3 linked regions of the Homo sapiens genome follow. The protein of the gene in region 2 interacts with the protein of the main gene of each other region in a pairwise test. Each region holds a gene or a part of one and is shown on either strand. Other genes may lie near its edges.

The links. Proteins that work in one complex are often made in the same cells at the same time.
Region 1: the proteins of NUDCD2 (region 2) and FBXO24 interact in binary tests that used the Homo sapiens proteins (3 or more experiments, as listed by UniProt).
Region 3: the proteins of NUDCD2 (region 2) and PAFAH1B1 interact in binary tests that used the Homo sapiens proteins (3 or more experiments, as listed by UniProt).

Annotation. Positions count from the first base shown.
Region 1 is NC_000007.14:100,582,399-100,589,355, reverse strand, and holds the start of FBXO24 (F-box only protein 24), read right to left. Parts: upstream 3,029-6,957; 5' UTR 2,731-3,028; coding exon 2,692-2,730; intron 2,671-2,691; exon of another isoform or gene 2,661-2,670; coding exon of another isoform or gene 2,607-2,660; intron 2,385-2,606; exon of another isoform or gene 2,170-2,384; intron 1-2,169. Other genes in the region: LRCH4 (leucine-rich repeat and calponin homology domain-containing protein 4), read left to right, coding at 3,256-3,475, 6,897-6,957. UniProt on the Homo sapiens protein: Substrate-recognition component of the SCF (SKP1-CUL1-F-box protein)-type E3 ubiquitin ligase complex.
Region 2 is NC_000005.10:163,457,082-163,464,781, forward strand, and holds the start of NUDCD2 (nudC domain-containing protein 2), read right to left. Parts: upstream 3,022-7,700; 5' UTR 2,970-3,021; coding exon 2,781-2,969; exon of another isoform or gene 1,953-2,780; coding exon of another isoform or gene 1,914-1,952; intron 560-1,913; exon of another isoform or gene 530-559; coding exon 481-529; exon of another isoform or gene 336-480; intron 1-335. Other genes in the region: HMMR (hyaluronan mediated motility receptor), read left to right, coding at 3,612-3,657, 6,775-6,873, 7,642-7,700. UniProt on the Homo sapiens protein: May regulate the LIS1/dynein pathway by stabilizing LIS1 with Hsp90 chaperone.
Region 3 is NC_000017.11:2,680,654-2,686,143, reverse strand, and holds the end of PAFAH1B1 (platelet-activating factor acetylhydrolase IB subunit beta), read right to left. Parts: intron 5,189-5,490; exon of another isoform or gene 4,910-5,188; intron 4,416-4,909; coding exon 4,342-4,415; 3' UTR 529-4,341; downstream 1-528. UniProt on the Homo sapiens protein: Regulatory subunit (beta subunit) of the cytosolic type I platelet-activating factor (PAF) acetylhydrolase (PAF-AH (I)), an enzyme that catalyzes the hydrolyze of the acetyl group at the sn-2 position of PAF and its analogs and participates in PAF inactivation.

The DNA of each region.
Region 1 (6,957 bases), on a different chromosome or scaffold from region 2:
AGGCCCTTTTAGCACTAACTCTGTAGAGAAACACTAGTGAATTCCTCACATTTCAGCAGGCCAAGGCCTCTAGGGATTGGTAGCTCAAGAGTATAGACTCAAAAAACTATAAACTCAGTTTGACAGGTGAGATGGAGAGGTGACTGTGCTAATAATCGTTTAGCTCACAAATGATTCAGCAAACTCTTTAGACTTGTGAAAAAACACATCCAAAAGGAGACTGCAGCCTGGTGCCGGTGGCTAACGCCCGAAATCCCAGCACTTTTGGGTGGCCATGGTGCAAGGATGGCTTGAGGCCATGGGTTTCAAGACCAGCCTGGTCAACATAGACCCTGCGTCTATTAAAAAAAAAAAAAAACTTAAAAATTACCCAGGCGTGGTGATGCACCCCTGTAGTCCCAGCTACACAGGAGGCTGAGGCAGGAGGATTGCTTGAGCCCAGTTTGAGGCAGCAGTGAGCTATGATCGTGCCACTGCACTCCAGCCCGGGCGAGAATGATACCCAGTTTCAAAAAAAACAAACAAAAAAGAAGACTGCTTTTGCTTTCCTGAGGGACAGTAACATCATTGCATGTATAAAGGACAACCTATTAAGGTGGGAGAAAGGGATGGATTTCCTCTGAAAGCTTAGGATTTCTCCCAGGGTCTCTGATATTAGCTTTGTCTTATGTGGGGTGACATTTATCAGGAGAAACAGCAGGGGTCAGGGTTGTGTCTGTCCCACTCAGGCCAGATCTACACCAATAAATCCAAGGAGTGGCTGGCTCTTGCAGGGGCTCAAAGGAGTCCCATCCTGCCAGACCACCAGCCCTCACCACACAGTGTCACAGATCCGTTCATTGACTGCACCAGACTGACCACCCAAATTCCCTTATGTATGGTGCCTAGCCATGGCTAGGCTGGGATGCCTGAGATGGAATTTTAATTCTTCAGCAACTACTCAGGAATATCAACCTCTGAGATGTGAACTAAGGAGAAAGCAACTTCAGTGACTTATTTCTGGGCAACCTACCACATAGGGAGGGGACTGCATTAGGGACTCATGCCACTTAGAAAGGAAGATCTCCAAGTAGACAGAAAGGTATTTTCCATTCCTCTTGCATTTGGGTCCCCTTTATCCACTCCATTTCACCCCAGGAGGCAAACGAGAGGTTGTGAATAGAAAAAGTCCACTGTGGGCCAGGCTTTGTGGCTCACGCTTATAATCCCAGCACTTCGGGAGGCCGAGGTGGGAGCATTGCTTGAGCCCAGGAGTTTGAGATCAGCCTGGGCAACATAGTAGGACCCTGTCTCTACAAAAAATACAATTAGCTGGCATGGTGGTGCGTGCTTGTAGTCCCAGTTACTCGGGAGGCTGAGGTGGGAGGTTGAGGCTGCAGTGAGCTGCGATCAAGCCACTGCACTCCAGCCTGGGCAACAGAGCGACTCTGTCTCAAAAGAAAGAAAAAGTCCACTGTGGGCCGGGTGCGGTGGCTCACGCCTGTGATCCCAGTACTTTGGGAGGCAGAGGCAGGATCGCTTGAGGTCAAAAGTTTGAGACCAGCCTGGGCAACATAGCAAAACCCCATCTCTACAAAAATTGAAAATAAATTAGCCAGGTGCAGTGGTGCCGCCCGTGGTCCCAGCTACTTGGGAGGCTGAGGCAGGAGGATCACTTGAGCCCAGGCATTCAAGGCTGCAGTGAGCCATGACTGCACCACTGCACTCCAGCCTGGGCGACAGAATCAGACCTTCTTAAAAAAAAAAAAAAAAAGGCCGGGCGCGGTGGCTCACGCCTGTAATGCCAGCACTTTGGGAGGCCGAGGAGGGCATATTGCCTGAGCTCCTGAGTTTGCGACCAGCCTGGGCAACACGGTGAAACCCCGTCTCTACTAAAATACAAAAAATTAGCCGGGTGTGGTGGCGGGCGCCTGTAGTCCCAGCTACTCGGGAGGCTGAGGCAGGAGAATTGCTTGAACCCGGACAGTGGAGGTTGCTGTGAGCCGAGATCGCGCCACTGCACTCCAGCCTGGGCGACTGAGCGAGACTCCATCTCAAAAAATAAAAAAATAAAAAGAGGAAGGGAACGGAAGGGAGAGGGAGGGAGGGAGGAAGAGAGGAAGGGAGTGAAAACATCCACTGTGAAAACTGAGGGAGCGGGAAAGGGCTGTGCGTGGAGGATCCAGAGACCTGGTTTCTAGAGCAAGCCAGCTGTCAGGAACTTGCTGTTCGCTCTTGCTAACGCATCAACTTCCCTCTGCCTCAGTTTCTGCATTCGTAGCACCAAGGGCGTGTTCTAGGCGGTGAGATCCTTTCTAAGCCTCTAAAACCCCGTGGTCTGGTCCCCTCTCCATTCCTGTCCAGGGGAGCTCCTCGGGTGAGACGGCAGACCGTGCAACGCTGCACCTACACCCTCCCTCCTCGAGCTGGGCATCTCCAGGCTCTGGGAAGCCCCCCGCCCGCCCCCAGCCCGGGGGTCCCGAGACCCCTGCCAGAGGCTTCACAGTCGGAGGTCCCCCCGCTGCCCCTTCAGCTGCGACAACCGCCAGTGCACTGGCCTCAAGCAGTCGCCCGAATCCCCTCAAGCCCTGGACGCCGGCTAGCCCCCTAACACGTCCAGCTCGCACTCGCCACTGCAGCGGCGAACTGCGTTCCCGGCCGGCCAGGGGCTCCGCGTTCATTCTTAACCTCAGTCTTAAAGTTCTAGCTCACCCGCCTCCTCCTTAGCAAAGGGACCGCCTTCTCGCCCATGCTATTGGTAGGTAGAGCCGTCCCTCAGAGAAGAGGCAGGTCCAGATTCCCTTCGGAGGCTCTAATTGGCCTTCTTGACAGTCACTCGCCTGTATCTGGCTTACGATTGGTCTTTGGGGGACGAGGACTAGGCACCCCCTGCTTGCGGTCCCTCGGCCCGTTTTCCTGCTAGTGGAGTGCCGGTGTCCCCTCCTCTTGGTTGGACCTGATTGGCTCCACCTCCCGATCTGAGCATTGTGATTGGGTGCAGCTGCGCTGGGCGGGACGGCCTGGAGCGTCGGCCGTTGGCGAGCGCTCTATCCTTGTTCCCCTCCCTTCTCTCGTCAGACTCCGGCGCCGGAGCTCCACCCCCACTGACGGGTTCTGATTGGCCGCTTCTGACGCGTCTCGGGGCCACGATTGGTCCGTCCGGTCCCGGACACCGCTCCCTCCCCCTTGAGGCAACTACGGCGGCTCCAAGGAGGGGGTGGGGGAAGGAGGGACGGCCGGTCCCGTCAGTCAGGCAGCGGGAGCCGCCGGGAGCGGATGGCGGCGGCCGTAGCGGCTCCACTCGCCGCCGGGGGTGAGGAGGCGGCAGCCACGACCTCCGTGCCCGGGTCTCCAGGTCTGCCGGGGAGACGCAGTGCAGAGCGGGCCCTAGAGGAGGCCGTGGCCACCGGGACCCTGAACCTGTCTAACCGGCGCTTGAAGCACTTCCCCCGGGGCGCGGCCCGTAGCTACGACCTGTCAGACATCACCCAGGCTGGTGAGTGCAGCCGGGCCCCGGGCCCAACCGGGTCCCTCATTTGCATAGCCCCACCCCGGGCCCCGCCCGGCCCGGGAGTCGGGCCCGCCCCTTCACCTGGCGGCCAGGGTTGCTGCCCCTCCTGATTGCCCTAAACCTGCAGCCATCCTCTCCCATCTTTGAGAACCCCCTAGACAATGAACGTGCTTCTCGTTTGCACAGAACGCCCTGCGCCTCCGAGCGTTGGGAGAGATTCCTCCTTTCTCTTTATTTGCATATCTGCGCACCTGTAGGATGGTCCCGCCCCTCACCTGGTTGGCTTATTTACATGATCTCTTAACCTCAGCTCCAATCGGTCTATGAAGCAGTCCCCACGAGCTCCTCTAATAACTGCTTTCTCTCCCTCTTCATCTACACCTCTTAACCCCCGTCCCACCGAGATCCGAGCAGCCCCGGGCACCCCCTTCCCAGTGACTGGCCCCTAAGCCCGAGGTTTCTGCTTTCTGTGCCGCAACCCCGCCCCCTAAGGTCCTGGCCCTCTCCACTGTCCACGCAGCTCTCCAGCCTATGGGAAAGAAACAAATCTCTACCTCCCCTCACTCTTTTCTCCCTGAGCTCTTCCGCCTATTATCCCCAACCGGCTTATCTGAGATTCCTCCTCCTCCTTCCTAAGCCTGTGAGGTCACTGTGGAGCCTGTGACCTCATAGGGATCTTAGAATTCCCATTTCAGTTTCTGCTTTCCCCCGGGGGAGGGACTTGAGGCCGTTGCTGGAGGGAAGGAAATCTTATCTCCTAGCTGGGAGTGCTGGCCAGCTAGAGACTGTCCTTCCACGCCTCCACCCGCAGGATCTGTCCAACCATGCACCCTCCACCCTGGTGTCTGTGGATGGTAGGGGGTGGGGGACTTAACTGTGACAGGTGAGTCAAGCCTCAGCTACTCAGGAGGCAGCCTATGACCTTGGGCCGGCAGCTGGGGGTGGGGATCAGGATCAGGGAGGAGGACTGCATTCCCGAAGCCTCACCCCAGCCCAGGCCTCTTCCTCCTCTCATCTGCACGGTGGGGGACCAGAGCTGGAGGATAGTGCTTACTTCTCCCTAAGCAGGTGCCTGCTCACCTGGGAACACTCAGGCCGGCACTGGCACACATCCTCTTCCCTCTTCTGGGGAGAACCAGTCGAAACCTCCCCACTGATCTCGCCTGCTCTGCAACACTTGAGATGGGGAATGAGTGAGCTCCAGGAGCCATTCCTGCCCCTTACAGCCCTGTTCCCTCCCACCCCCACCTAACCCCACACTCCAGATTGACCTCAGCAGCTGTGTGACACTCACTGTCTGTTCCCTTCCCCTCCCCCTTGGTTGTTTTTTGACAAAGACCAAATGTTATTCTTTACTTCCTTAGGCTGTCTCTCCCTGTGTGGACTCTTGGGGAAAACTACCCGGAGCTCCCCGGCCCCTCCCAGCTCCCGCCCCCGGCCCCCTCCTCCCCCAGCATTCCGGCTCAGGGTGCAGCCGTGCTCCTGTGAGCTTGGGGGGGGGTCGGAAATCCCAGCTTCCCAAGAACCCTCCTCTGCCCCACTCTCTACACAGGGCCCAGGTTCTAGGCCAAGTGGGGTCCCTCTTGTCCAGAATTCTCTCCTCTGTCCCCTCTCCGCAAGCAGGGACAGAAAGGGGAAGTGACAAAAACATACAGTTGCCCATACCCTGCCCTCCATCTCTCCTCGCCCTCCAAGCAGACGAAAAGCATCAGTGCCTTGCTGCCCGGACTGCCTTGAGCCTTCCCCTCCCGTCTCCCATCTCTTTCTGAGTGTCTTCGCTGCGTGTCGCCTAGTCTTGGGTCCCTGATCTCCCTTGGACTAGGCTCCCTGGGGTGATAGTAGGAAGAATCCTGAGGTGGCGGGGAGGGGCCATCTTGCAAAGGAGAAGTGCAGCTCATTCTCTCCCAGACCACATCCTGTGCCCCCAGTGCCCTGCCTCCTGCCTGAGCTCCCTTCCGCTCCTAGCTTTTGTCCCCGCCACCGCCTACCCCATCAGAACTCTGAGAACTCGGTCTCCACCCCCTTCGTCCACATGCACACACACAAACACATTTGCAGAGAAAGCGGGCAGGTGGAGGCGAGGCTGGGAGGGGCAAATGCCATCCCCCCACCCTCTCCAGAACGGTCATCTCTGAGGCCAGGGCTTCTGTCTGTGCACCAGGGCTGGGCAGAGAGGAAGAGAAAGGGGTCCCGGGGCATCAGGCTGTCATCCACCCTGGTAAACACGGGGCCTACCAGAGCCAGAACCTGACAGATTGTTTCTACTTCATTTCCTGTCACAAGACTCATTTCCTTGGGGGATATACCCGGCTTCTCTCCTCTGCTTGCTTTTGCTGGCCTGCCCTTCCCTGAGAAGGGCCCTTGGAGAAGCTCACCAGGTCTGTGGCCTGGGACTCCGCCTCGCGGGCCCTGGGCCCCTCCCAGGACAGGCTGGGCCGAGGAAACAGAAAGGCAGGCTTCTCCAGGTCTAAGCCGTTAGTGGGTCCGTGCTACAGGGAATCCCAAGGCTGCCAGCCTCCGCATAGCAAGGCAGTGCTCCAGATAAGAGGGCGATTGTAGACCCCAGGCCCTCCCACACTCTCCACCCTCGCCGTGCCTGAGATGCTCACACAGTTGCTGATCTCTTGAAGTCTGTGTCAGTAAGAGAGGAAGCAGAGCCGGGCTGCTAGGGCTAGCAGAGGGTAGGAAGGATGCCTGCCCTGGGCCAGAGAAGCCCAGATGGGAGGGACCTGGGAACTCCAGCTCCCATCTCCAACCAGGTCTTCTTGCCCTTCCCTCCCAGCCCTTGGGAATCAGTAACTTTATGATTCTTTGGACCTGGCTTGCTGGTCCTTGGGGCTGGCGAAAAACTCGTCCGGTGTCGGGGACTTTATCTCTAGAACCAAGATAGAGTGACCTGTGGTTTTTCCCGTGTTGAAAACACACTGGAGTAGGGAAGAAGGGCCCCGAGGAGGGATGGGCACTCCCTGTGGTTTGCCCCAGGGGTTTCCCATCTTCCCTCCGGGAGCCCCCCAGCCCCTCGCCTTACTGTTTTCCCATGAGCACTGACCCCTCCTCTCACCTTCGGTCCTCCGCCTCACCTGGCATCTCTGAACAGGAACCACAGGAGTTAGAGATTCCAGCTGCTCTCCAGGATAGCCCTCCATTGACATTCCCCAACCCCCAAGTCTGAGGCTTCTCTAGCCCAGTGACGCTAAGGCCTTTGCCTTCCCTGTGCCATTCTGGTCACGCCTGGAATGTGCTCCCGTTGGCAGAAGGCTTTGTTATCTCTCCTGGGAGGCCACATTGATGGCCTTGAATCTTTAGGTGTGGAGGTGAGGGAGTGGGCAGCCGGCTCTGGGGGGACTGAAGGTCCTGTCCGGGCTGGGCCTTTCCGCAACTCTCCCCGACACCTCCTTTTCCCCAGACCTGTCCCGGAACCGGTTTCCCGAGGTGCCCGAGGCGGCGTGCCAGCTGGTGTCCCTGGA
Region 2 (7,700 bases):
TAAAAAAAAAACACACACACACACACGCACAAATAAATTAGAGTTCTTCATCAAGTTGTTTTTTTTTTTTTTGAGACAGTATCACTCTCACCCAGGCTGGAGTGCAGCGGCTTGATCTCGGCTCACTGAAACCTCCGCCCCCCGGGTTCAAGTGATTCTCCTGCCTCAGCCTCCCGACTAGCTGGGAATACAGGCATGCGCCACCATGCCCGGCTAACTTTTGTATTTTTAGTATAAACGGGGTTTTGCCATGTTGGCCAGGGTGGTCTCAAGAAGTTCTTCATTAAATTTTATATTTCCAAAAACAACTAACTAATTTTTTCTCCCCCCACTAGGTAACTTTGACATACAACGGTTTTCAACACATTTCTATTGCTTTATCTTTCAAAGCTGCAAAGACAAAAAAGACCTAATACAAAAGAGGAAAAGATATCAAGACAAAATTATTTTAATTTGATGAATTATAGTAATTACCCTTACCCAAAGTCCATGTTCCCTCATCAGCTATTGTAGAATCAAAGAGTTTGCCCTGAAAAATAAACATATAAGGTGCTAAAAATACAGAATTTAATTTTTATAAAGTTTTCATGATTAAGATTTACCTACTTTCCTACCTAATCCACATCTTATACCACCACTTCACCATGACATTTATAGGTGCACAACCCTAAATTTTCTCCCAGCAGGTAAAATGGAAACTAGTTTACACTGCAAGGGATATTTACTATGGCAAAGAACACAGAGCTCTCTAAAGAAAGATCAGGGCTCCTTAATTTTTAGAAGATACAGTAATACTGACCACTGGCCAAATGTGAAATTAATATCTGAAATGCTTTAATTCTACCAATTTAAATTAACCACAAGAAGGGATCTCCTGCTAAAACTAAAAAATGTTGTCTTTTTTTTTTTTTTTTTTTTTTTTTTTGAGACAGAGTTTCGCTCTGTCGCCCAGGCTGCAGTGGCACGATCTGGCTCACTGCAACCTCCACCTCCAGGGTTCAAGCGATTCTCCTGCCTCAACCTCCCAAGTAGCTAGGACTACAGGCGCCCGCCACCACGCCCGGCTAATTTTTGTATTTTTAGTAGAGATGGGGTTTCCCCGTGTTAGCCAGGCTGGTCTCGAACTCCTGACCTTGTGATCCGCCCGCCTAGGCCTTCCAAAGTGCCAGGATTACAGGCATGAGCTACCGCACCCGGCAAAATGTTGTTTTTAAAGTAAACTTTTAAAAACGTTTTAATCTTTTTGTTGGGCAATCGGCATTAAAAAAACTTTACGTATTCCAGATTTGATAGATTAGTTGTGACTAACTGTTCACAAACTCATGTTTTTTAAAAAAATAAACAAAATATAAATTTAAAAGAGACTGCACCAGGCCCAGTAGCTCAGGCCTGTAATCCCAGGACTTTGGAGGCCAACGTGGATTGCTTGACCCCATGGGTTTGAGGCTGCTGTGAGCTACAATCTCACCCCTGCACCCCAGCATGGGAGACAGGGACCCTGTCTCAATAAATATATATTTTTTTTTAAAGAGAGAATGCCTAAACTCAAATCCATTTTAATTTGTTGCCAAATTTAAGTTATAGAAAGTGAAATTAAATGTCACTAGGAAAAGCCCACATTTTAAAATATGTCAAAATTAGTGAGAAAAAAATCCCACTGGTCTATACGTACATCAGAAATCCCAAATTCAGCAGCTACTGCTAAATTCCGAAAGTTACTGGATTTACTAATTTATAATCGTAATCTAAAACCATTGTTGAGGAAACTATGAATTGTACAATTCAGAAAAGTAACTGAGATCCAAGCTGACATAATGTCTTTCACACGAATCTTGAGGCACTCAAAGCACCTCCATATACTGTAATATATATAATAGCTAATAGCTAACATATAGTATGAACTTATTACATACCAGTGAATACTCCAAGCTCTTCATACACGTGAATACCATGTTAAGCTCAAAACAATCCCATGAGAAGGGTACTATAACTACCTTATCTTGTGGATAAGGAAGATATAGAGACACTGAACAATCTCTCGCCCAAGTTTACAAAACTAGGAAACAAGTAGTCTCCCTTCACCATATTACACTGCCATCAAACATCTTGGGCATCTAACCTGAGAACTAAATCTAATTTCAACCTGTTAGTTTAATTATACACTTAACAAAGAAAAAGCGGGTCCAGATCCAAAGAGCATTGGTGAAAAGAAATAAAAGGAGTACTACTTATTTTATGCACACACCTCTTCACCACCTGCTTGACCACTCCACAAACATGCAGGATTTTCAAGCTTTTAGATGAGAAAACTAATCACCTGACATCATCTCTAAATTCTCTGCCCGTTATTCTATCCCTATTTTCTTTGTTGTCCTTTCCTATATTTATCTATTTATGAATTACGCTTCCGTACAGGAGCTTAACCTCTCCACTGCAGGTACGTTATCTGTTGTCTTCCTGCCTGTCTTCAGTGCACGGAAGAAATATTTGTTCCTTTAGCAACCTAGTTAATCTGTTCCCAGCTGAAGCCCGTCAGAGAAGCAGAAGCAGCAGTCTTAGTTTGAAAACTAAACACGAAAATAGGCTCCTCAAATTTCCACAACTCAGCACCTGCCCTGAAGAGGCGGGGGCTCTGACCAGACCCAAACCTGGTCAGTGTTATCCTCTTTCTCTTTCTGCCAGCCACAGGAGCCGTCGGGACACCCAACAGTCGTTCAGGGAAACGGGGCTGGGGGCGTCTGGGAAGAGGAAACTGAACACAAGCCCCGAGCTGCCGCTACCTTGAGGATCTCGCGGCCGCCCACCGACAGCGCCACATGCCGGCTCTGGAGGCCGCACTGGATATCCTGGGCGCGCGTGCCTGGCGGCACCTGAACTTCAATGAACACCTCCTCCAAGGTCTGGTACCACTGGCCCCACGGGGTCCCGCACGGTACCACCCCACTCCGCTCCTCAAACGGGGCCGACATAATCCAGTCCCTCCCGGCCGCGGCCGCACCAGGCGGAGCCGAGCGCACGCGCGGAATCCCACGCTTAGGCTACGCCTCGGCCTCTCCGCTCGGGTCACTGCGCATGCGCAGGAACGCAAGCTAGCGCTTTGGTGTGCGTGTTCGTTTTTCCCTTTGAATGGCCGTTTACGGCACCGGCAGGCCCCGGATGAAAGAACTGAAATCCAGAAAAGTTCACATGCAACGAACAATGGGACAGAATTGGAACCAGTGAAGCCGGAACTCACTACACCGTCCCCTAAGTGACGCCAAAATGCACTTTCTAACGTCTCCGGAGGGAAGTGCGCTTGCGCAAATGCTAGGTTACACTTGAGTAACTCCGGGAATGACTGGGTGGGTGGGGCGGGGAACAGTAACGGTCTCCTATTGGATGGCAGCCTAAACTCGCAGGCCAGCTAATTGGACGCAATCAGAACCCAGCATTCTTTCTTCGTGTTCCTGTGCGGGATTGGTGTGCCCAGGGGTTTGGCTTTCCAATTGGCTAACGCCGGGGTGGGTGGGGAATGTGGGGAGATTTGAATTTGAAACCGGTAGGGAGTGATAATCCGCATTCAGTTGTCGAGGAGTGCCAGTCACCTTCAGTTTCTGGAGCTGGCCGTCAACATGTCCTTTCCTAAGGCGCCCTTGAAACGATTCAATGACCCTTCTGGTGCGTAAGGGGGAAAGAGCTGGGGGACGGGAGACGCCCTAACGCCCTTTGCCTCTTTCAGCTCCCTTCTTGGGAGGCAAGCAGGAGGCGATTTTAGGGTCGGGCTGGGGCTCATTCAGTTGATTGATTTTTCTCAAATATGCTCTAAGCATCTGTTACATGCCAAGCACTAATCAGGATGCTAAGGATACCGCAGTGAAACAGTCTCCGCCCCGTGGGGCTTACATTCAGGCGGGGAATACTGTCAATAAACAGCGGTAATGGAGAAACTACAGCAGGGCGAAGGGAATGGACCCGAGACGTTGGTAGCTACTTGATTTTCAAGTCCGAGAGGGCCTCACTGATAAGAACACTGGAGTATTACTTGTAGTCTGAACTTGTGCATTTCTTTTGTGTATTCCATTTGGGCATAAAAGAAGGAAGATTAGTAAAGGCAGTTTATGGGTGTAAAATTAGAGCAGCAGCACTTATTGAAAACATAAACAATGAAGTTATGGCTGATATTGACCACTTATACCTCAAGCACCGTACTAAGGCTTTACATCGATTATTAGTTATGTTAATTTCCCACCAACTCTAAGGGGTAATCCTATTATTATTTTATTGATAAAAAGACTGAGACTTAAATTTGCTCAGTGCTACATTACCAAAGTGACCGGACTGGAATATGAACCCAGCCCCCATCGTGTGCTCTTAACACCGCAATGCACAGCACAGTAACCAGGAAGCCTTAGCTGTGTTTGGTAGGCACTCATCATTTAAGATGCTGTATGCGGCCGGGCGCGGCGGCTCACGCCTGTAATCCCAGCACTTTGGGAGGCCGAGGCAGGTGGATCACGAGGTCAGGAGATCGAGACCACCGTGAAACCCCGTCTGTACTAAAAATACAAAAAAAATTAGCCAGGCGCGGTGGCGGGCGCCTGTAGTCCCAGCTGACTACAGGCTGAGGCAGGAGAATGGCGTGAACCCGGGAGGCGGAGCTTGCGATGAGCCGAGATCGCGCCACTGCACTCCAGCCTGGGCGACAGAGCAAGACTCTGTCTTACAGAAAAAAAAAAAATGCTGTATGCTGGGACTGTGCTACTAGATCTTGTTTATTCCTTCCAAAAGCCAAGTGAGGAAGGTACTGATATTGACCTCATTTTACAGATGAGAAAACAGAGGTTTTGTATCTTGCACAATCAGTAAGTGGTAGAGCTAAATATTAAAGCTCATGATTTATTCACTATCATACACTATTTCGTGGTTACTCATTACGTCTCTAAGTTTTGTCAGCCAACGTGTGAATGAAAATACAACTACTCACAAAGGAAGGCCAAATGAGCAAGTGAATCAGCACAAACTTATTTTCTTAGTTAAAAGACTCAAGGACCATATGATTTCCCGAGTAATCAAAGGACCTACTCTTAAGTTTTGTCAGCAGTGTGGCTTTAAGGTTTTTTTGGTTTTTTTGTTGTTTGCATTATAGTAGGTTAAACTGGCTTTATCAAAGATATAGTATTTCAGGCTCACAGTTACAGAAATAATACTAATTATTAATTTGATGCTTAATGTGTATGAGGCACTGTGGTGATTTTTCATATTCCAGTACTCCAGCCTGGGTGACAGTGCGAGACTCTGTTTCAAAAAAAAAAAAGCAAAAAAACCCCCAAAATTTATATTTCAACCTAAGATGTATTTTTATATCTCTACACATACATACGAAAGAAAAGTTTCACAAAACAATGCCTAACTTTGCAGCATATGAGTCATGCTTTTTCTATTGTTTTTACTTTTTAAAAAATGCTAATCAAGATCTACTCATGGGGCTGGGCCTGGTGGTTCACACGTGTAATCCTAGCACTTTGGGAGGCCGAGGCAGAGAGATCAGCTGAGGTCAGGAGTTCAAGACCAGCCTGGCCAACATGGTGAAACCCTGTCTCTAGTAAAAATACAAAAAACTAGCTGGGCGTGGTGGTGGGAGCCTGTAATCCCAGCTACTCGGGAGGCTGAGGCAGGAGAATCGCTTGAACCCAGGAGGCAAAGGTTTCAGTGAGCCAAGATGGCGCCACTACACTCCAGCCTAGACAACAGAGCAAGACTCCGTCTCAAAAAAAAAAAAAAAAAAAAAAAAATCATGAGTTCCTGTCTACTGTTTGACAAACATTTAGGGGACAGCAGTAGTTGCCTGGGAATGGTCCAAGCTCCTTGCTCTTCCTATTTATTTGCATGAGACTCTAGACTGAAGTAAATAGCTTTTCAGAGAATAGTATTAATCTATTTGTTCCCAATCAGCTAAAGCTTTAGGCTAGTAGTATTTTAATTACTTTAAGTCCTAAAGGCCCCATCTCAGGTCTGCTATGTGTATTTACTCAGAAATGCCTTCAAATCTGGGACTTTAGTTAAGTGAAATTATGCAGTATAAACTTCTGGAACATACAAATATAGTCTAGTACAATTTGTACTTTGTGTAACATTGGCTTTTTGAATTTCCTAAGCCTCACATTCTTTGTCTATAAATTATCACACAGGATTCTTGTGAGGATTAAATAAAATAACATCTGTGAAATGCTTAGCATAATGCCTGGCATTTAGTAAGTGCTCAAAAAATTCTAGTTGCTCTAGTGTGGTTGCTTTTCTTCCATGTGTTTGAATTGCAGTTGACATCTTTAATAGGTCTGATGTATTGATATTAGCCAGAGATGGATTATCACTATAAATTTTTATTCTAGGCTAAACATTGAGGGATAGACAATTTTAATTACTTTATTTCTAGAAACTGATAGTAGTTATCTTTGTGACTCTCTTCGAGTAGAGTTGACACCAAGTATTTTATTTGCTATATTCAATCCTTAGTAAGAAAGCCATATATTGCCTGTAATATATGATGTTCATCTCAAAACTGTCGTTTGCTCAGTTGCCTGTGTTCCTTTGACCCGGTTGATATAAAGGGCAAGATGATATTGTTCTTCATAGAGAGGCCTTCTTTGTAATATCAAATGGATGCAATTTTTTACATTTAAAAAAAGCAGTTTGTTAATGACATTTTTACATTTATATTCACTTTATTATGACATGTTTTAACTTAAGATCATAAGTAACATTAGATAATATATTAATGTTTTCTATTTCCTCTAGGTTGTGCACCATCTCCAGGTGCTTATGATGTTAAAACTTTAGAAGTATTGAAAGGACCAGTATCCTTTCAGAAATCACAAAGATTTAAACAACAAAAAGGTAATATAGATCACCAAAGAACAATGGTTATGTGATCTTATAAGTTTTAAAGTTATGAATAACAATATTTAAAGATGTTATAGCATTTTTTAAAATGTGAAGCTAGAACTATATTTAAATTTTATTTGATGGATTTATGAAAGGGTCAAGTACAGAATAATGCTGTCATCATTACATTGTTATATAACCAGGAAAATTAAGCAAGATACTTATATTGATATGTAGCTTCCCTTTTGGTAATTACCTTGACTTGTCAGGGAATATTAGGAAAATCAGAAAGGTGTTAGATGTGTAAAAAAATTGTATGAGTAATTATTTGAAAATGTACAACTAAGGAAAGAATATATTGTTTCATCAAAAGTTGTAATTAGAAATTTGGGGCCGGGCAAGGTGGCTCGTGCTCGTAATCCTGGCACTCTGTGAGGCCAAGGTGGGTGGATCACATGAGTTCAGGATTTCGAGACAAGCCTGGCCAACATGGTGAAACCCCATCTCTACTAAAAATACAGAAATTAGCCAGGTGTGGTGGGGTGCGCCTGTGGTTCCAGCTACTAGGGAGGAAAGTGGGAGAGTTGCTTGAAACTGGGAGGCAGAGGTTGCAGTGGGCTGAGATGACACCACTGCAGTCCAGGCTGGGTGACAGTGAGACTGTCTCAAAAAACAAAAACAAACAAAAAGAGAAAGACAAAAAAATTTGGAAATTGTGTTTTGTGTGTAGTTAAAACACATTGACATCAACCATGATCTGTACAATTCATTTTTCCGCAGAATCTAAACAAAATCTTAATGTTGACAAAGATACTACCTTGCCTGCTTCAGCTAGAAAA
Region 3 (5,490 bases), on a different chromosome or scaffold from region 2:
CCCCATCTTTTTTTTTTCCTTTTTGTGGAGAACGGGGTCTCGCTATATTGCCCAGGGAGGTCCCGAACTCCTGGGCTCAAGCTATCCTCCCGTCTCTGCCTCCCCAAGAGCTGGGATTACAGGCGTGAGCCACCGCGCCCGGCAGGGCCCCTTATCTCTAGACTCTGTCCCCAAGAGTCTAGTCTTGGGCCTGTAACCAGCCATCCTGGCTTTGGCTCTCTGGCCACAGCGATAGCCACAGTCAGAACGGGCTGCTGGGAGGGTTGGGGAGAGCGGGCCTGTGCCGCAGACGCATGCCATGGCAAGGCTCAGGCTGAGGCACTCCCTCCTCCACCCGGGGGAAGGGGGACAGCAAAGCCAGTTCGGGTGCTGCCCTGAAGGAAAGCAGCTCATGAGGCCTTACTGCCCTGACACCGATTCGTGTCACTCTTTGTGACTGGAGCTACACACAGCCCCACTTTCTATCAGCATTTCCCCTGTGCAAAGGAAGACAAAAAAAAAAAAAAAAAAAAAAAAAAAAATCACATCTAGTTTTATAGGCATTTAATAGTTTACCAGTTGGTACAATAAGATTTTTTAATATGCAGAAAACATGAATAAATTTTGTTTTACACAGTCTGAGAGCAACAAATCTTACTGTAAAACACGAGAGCAATATTATATACATTCCTTTACTGATTTTTTAAAATTGTGTCAATATCTTCAGTGAACTCTTAACAATCTGGGGAACTGTTTTCCTCAATTACCACTTCAGCAACGTTCATACGAAATCAAGGCTTGCCTTCATGTCAGTGTCAGGATCAACTTTAACTCGAAGAGTTTGTGTTTGTCTCTAACATCTTCAGAGTGAGCTTTAGGGATGCCTGAAGGATGGACAGTACAAGCAAGCAGCTACTTCCATGATACAGTGGGAAGATAAAAAGGCCCATTCAGTCCAGCCGTGACCTGTAAATCCAGCTTGCCCTCCCCCCACCCCACTGGAAAAAAAATCCAAAACCTTTTTCCACCAGTTTTTTACATGTCGCTTCTCTACCAGGAGATTCTTTGCGTCATCTAGATGAACACACTGGACTTATATACAGCTGGACATGAAAGTAACCAATTTAAGTGCCTTTTCCTTCAACAATTTTAACTTCAGTTGCTTAAGGATGATCGAGCCACCGATGTCAACAAAATATCCTTTACCTTTAAATAGTTTTTCTTTAATTAAGTTTAAAGAAAACCTATTTAACGAGTGATATTACCGGGAAAGTTCACACAGAAACAGAAAGAGGCGAACGGGAGAGCAGGGCACTGGCAGCGGGGAGGCGGGGCTTGGTAAATCTAAAGCCAAAGCTTCCAAAGACTACGGCGAACGCTCCCCAGCCCGGGACGACTTGCTAACACTAGTGATTTTGAGAGTAGTGCTCTGGGCACACCATTGGTCACACCACACACAGACGAACCAGGACGGTCTTAGTCTCCTAAAGTGCAAGATGCCGTGACAACAGGCAACTAGGCTCCACGCGGTGTCTAAACCAGTCTCCATGGCATGCACTCTCAAGAGCGCAGCTAGGATTTCTTGGGCACGTTACAGATATATATTTGGGTGGCACTGGAATGTCTGTTTTCACACACACACACAGTCAATAATCATCTGAGGATGCAATTCTACCAGCTCTTTATTTCTTAAGTGGCCAATTTGATTGAGAAAGTGACAAAGCAGCAGTGAACCTCTAAACCAATTAATAAAAGTCCTCTACTTACAATCCAAACCAGTAACCTCATCATTGTCCTTATCCCAGGCAAGGCACAGGGTTAGACAGCAGACAGAGAAAACAGAGAACACAGTCAGAAAGGGCATCAACAGGACAGTGTCAGACAGCAGTGCAGGAAATTTTGCAAATCTGATTCCAGGTTGTAGACGGACTGCTCTCCCCCACCCCTTCGTTATTAAACAGGGCTCATTACATGTGGACCCAGTTGTGGGCCATCCCTGAGATTCAATGTTCGCTGCTTCTCACATGGAGGATGTCTGGTAACTCAACTCAGCAGCAGGCTGTGGCAATCTCCCAAGTAAGGATAACTTTGTTTACAGAGTAATCGTTTCCTCCTCCTTTGTCAACGCAAGTCGCTGTGTGCTGCAGGGGAAGACACGCTTGCTTCCTCCTGCATCGGTACCATTCTCCTTTATTGTTCAATATCTATGAGTGATTTCTAGATGTTGTGGCTTACCCTTAAACAATTCATGCTAAAAATGAATTAAAATACAAGACATTTATACATGTACAAACAAATGTTAAGATGCACCATTTCTATGTATTTATATTTCTCAAAATAGGACAGAAAATAGCAGCAAACAAGAACAAAGATATTTTCCATAGTTTTTGTAGAAAAATCCAGTCAGAAGAGCTAAGGGAAAAAGACTTTTCAATGTAAGCAGGGTTGTGAGGCAATATTGTCCTGAAAATTCACCTACTGTATGTATTTAAGGAATTAGCTTAAGATGTAATTTTTGTCCTCAAAAATAGCCATTAGTTCTCAAAACTTTCCCTTCCAGAGACATCTCTCAGGAATCTAAAAACAAACAAGCAAACAAACAAAAAGACACAAGCTAGACATAAAGCTGCTTCTAGTTAATATACGGCCTAGTCTCTGTGTGTATCTACAGGACGCTAACTCTCACCCTTTGTCTTTTGCAGGAACCAATTTTCCATTAAATACTAAAGGGGACATTTAAAAAATCACATAGTACACAAATGAATAAAACGCAGTTCAGAATTTTATCTTTGTTAAACTGTCACTGTTATCTCATTGTTCTGTTAACTTTTCAAATAACTCTCTTGGAAACAAAAAAAACCTGTTGGTTAGCTAAGCAATGGAATTCTTTATTAATAACTGACAATGGAATAGTGCTCCAAAAGTCATGGCTAAAAATTCTCTTAAACCTACCTGTAACTTTGGGTCAAAATATACAACATATCCGGGTTGTGTAAAATGTCGAGCGGCTAAATTAGAGGGGGACATAACGGAAGTGATTTTCCTTCGGCTGGAAAAAAATCCCCAGAGTCAGACCTAGTTTTCAGAAGCATTAAGATCAAAAAGGGTTTGTTCTAAAGCATGGCATTCCACAGCAACATTTATTCTACTTGTCCGTTTTAGCACTTTTTCAAAAACCCAGGACTAAGGACATGGAGGTTGATGTGTATGATACACACATACAGACTTATCCACTTACAGATAGGCCCATATACTTACAAACATTTACATATAAACAAAAGGTGAAAACAGTACATTTTTATGCACGCTCCATTAAACCCTGTCATTTTTTTAAAACTTGTAAGTGAAACACAGTTTAAATCAATATCAGATTCATGTTGAAAAACAAACTGCTGTATTCCTCCCACTCCTTTCAAATGGGCACACAGAACCTTCTCAGTATTTCTGTCATTATGTAATGCACATTGCACATCCCTAAAAAACACCAAAAACGAATAGTGATTTGTACCATGACACACTCAATGGGGAGATTAAATTCTACTTGGAAGTCACATCACTACACAGTCTAATAGTATGGAGAATACAACTAGAAGTATGTCCAGTGTGGAAAATAGAAGCTTAGAGTATGACAGTATTTTTTGACCTGTTTACAAAGCATTAAGACCAAAATGAAATAAATGAGTTGCTATTAGCTGCTGAGATTTTTCTTGAGATTTACAGTCATTTTCTTACATAAATATACCACTAGCCTCTGCGTGATAGGCTGCCAAAACAAATATATCCTACTGATTTGGCAAATGTGTCATGACAAAAATTCCAATGTATAATCCCCATTCATTACATAGATGGTTCAGAAGATTCTGAATTGTAGCCTTATCATCTAAAATCCTTACAGAAGATTTATTAAGCACACTTAAGTGATGTTACATAGATACACATTTCAGAAAAAGCCCTAATAACCACCACTTTTCCCCAAATGAGGCCATCAAGTCAGGCACCAACAGATAGCAGAAAGAAAAACAGGAATTAATAATCCAACATAAAATGACACTGTCAACTATTCAGTTTAGTGCCCTAGTTCAATTGATTCAACTTCTGCCTTCTTAGGCCTGGTGTGACCAATGCCAGCCCAGGTTTTTAAACCCTATGGTACTTCTAGACAACGTATGTAAATTTACAGTATACAATTTGGATTCACCATGCATGAATACTTTGTGTGTAACATTTAATAAGCTCAATCTACATCCAGAATAATTTACATGAAAGGACAATATTTATTTAAACAGAGCTCAATGGGGTAACCATGGTATCATCAGAGTGCATCCAGAGGAAAAGAGGGAGGAGGGGCCGAAGGAGACACAATCAACGGCACTCCCACACTTTTACTGTTTGATCTACGCTGCCAGTGACGACATAGGGTGCCGTCTTGTGGAAATCTGAAAGAAAAAGAAATGGTTTATTTAAAACTCACACGTAAGCCTGGACAACAAACATAGTGAGACCCCCTCTCTACAAAATACAAAATTAAAAAAAAAATTAGCCGGGCATGGTAGTGTGTGCCTGTAGTCCCAGCTACTCGGGAGACTGATGCAGAACTGTTTGAGCTGGGAAGTCGAGGCTGCAGCGAGCCATGACTGCACCACTGCACTCCAGCCTGGGTGACAGAGCAAGACCCTGCCCGGTCCCAACCCTCCATCACACTGAGCCAGATACAATTTTTAATGAGCCACAAAATTCTAAGAAAGTCCAAATGCCAGTAGTTTTCGTGTTTCTCTAATATACCATAACCCAAGAAGGTATCTAGTTTGCCAATTCAGTTAGGGAAGTTGAGACTCAATGATCAAATCCTGTATTAACATCTCAATAAAAACGCCTGTTCCTCTTTGGCCCATCCCAAATGGGGCTCAAATCCTTTTTCTTCTTTTTTCAAAGGCAGGGTCTCACTATGTTGCCCAGGCTGGAGTGCAGTGGCTGTTCAAAGGTGCGATCCCACTACTGATCAGCAAGGGAGTTTTGACCTGCTCTGTTTCTGACCTGGGCCAGGTCACCCCTCCTTAGGCAACCTGGGAGTCTCCTGTTCCCAGGAGGTCACCATATTGATGCTGCACTTAGTGCAAACATCCCATCAGCACAGCACACTGTAACCCAGAACTCCTGGGCTCAAGCAATCCTCCAGCCTCAGCCTCCTGAGTAGCTGGGACTAAGGCACAGCAGGGCTCAAATCTAACAATACACAGTCTCGCCATATCCATTTACTGAACACGATGTTCCAGGCATGGCATAAATGCTCCGTATTTGTGCCTAATCCTTGAACCAATCCTGTGAGGCAGGTATTAGCCCACCTTACGCAGGCTTTGGTCCATTATACTTTAGTGCATTTATTATACTTGACTGTATTCACTCTCTTAAATTCCAGATTCAAGTCCAGATGATAGTGAGGATGTTTACTCAAATCAAATACAATTTTCTGAGTTTCTAGTATCTGATAGTATACACCTGCCAGTGGGAAAG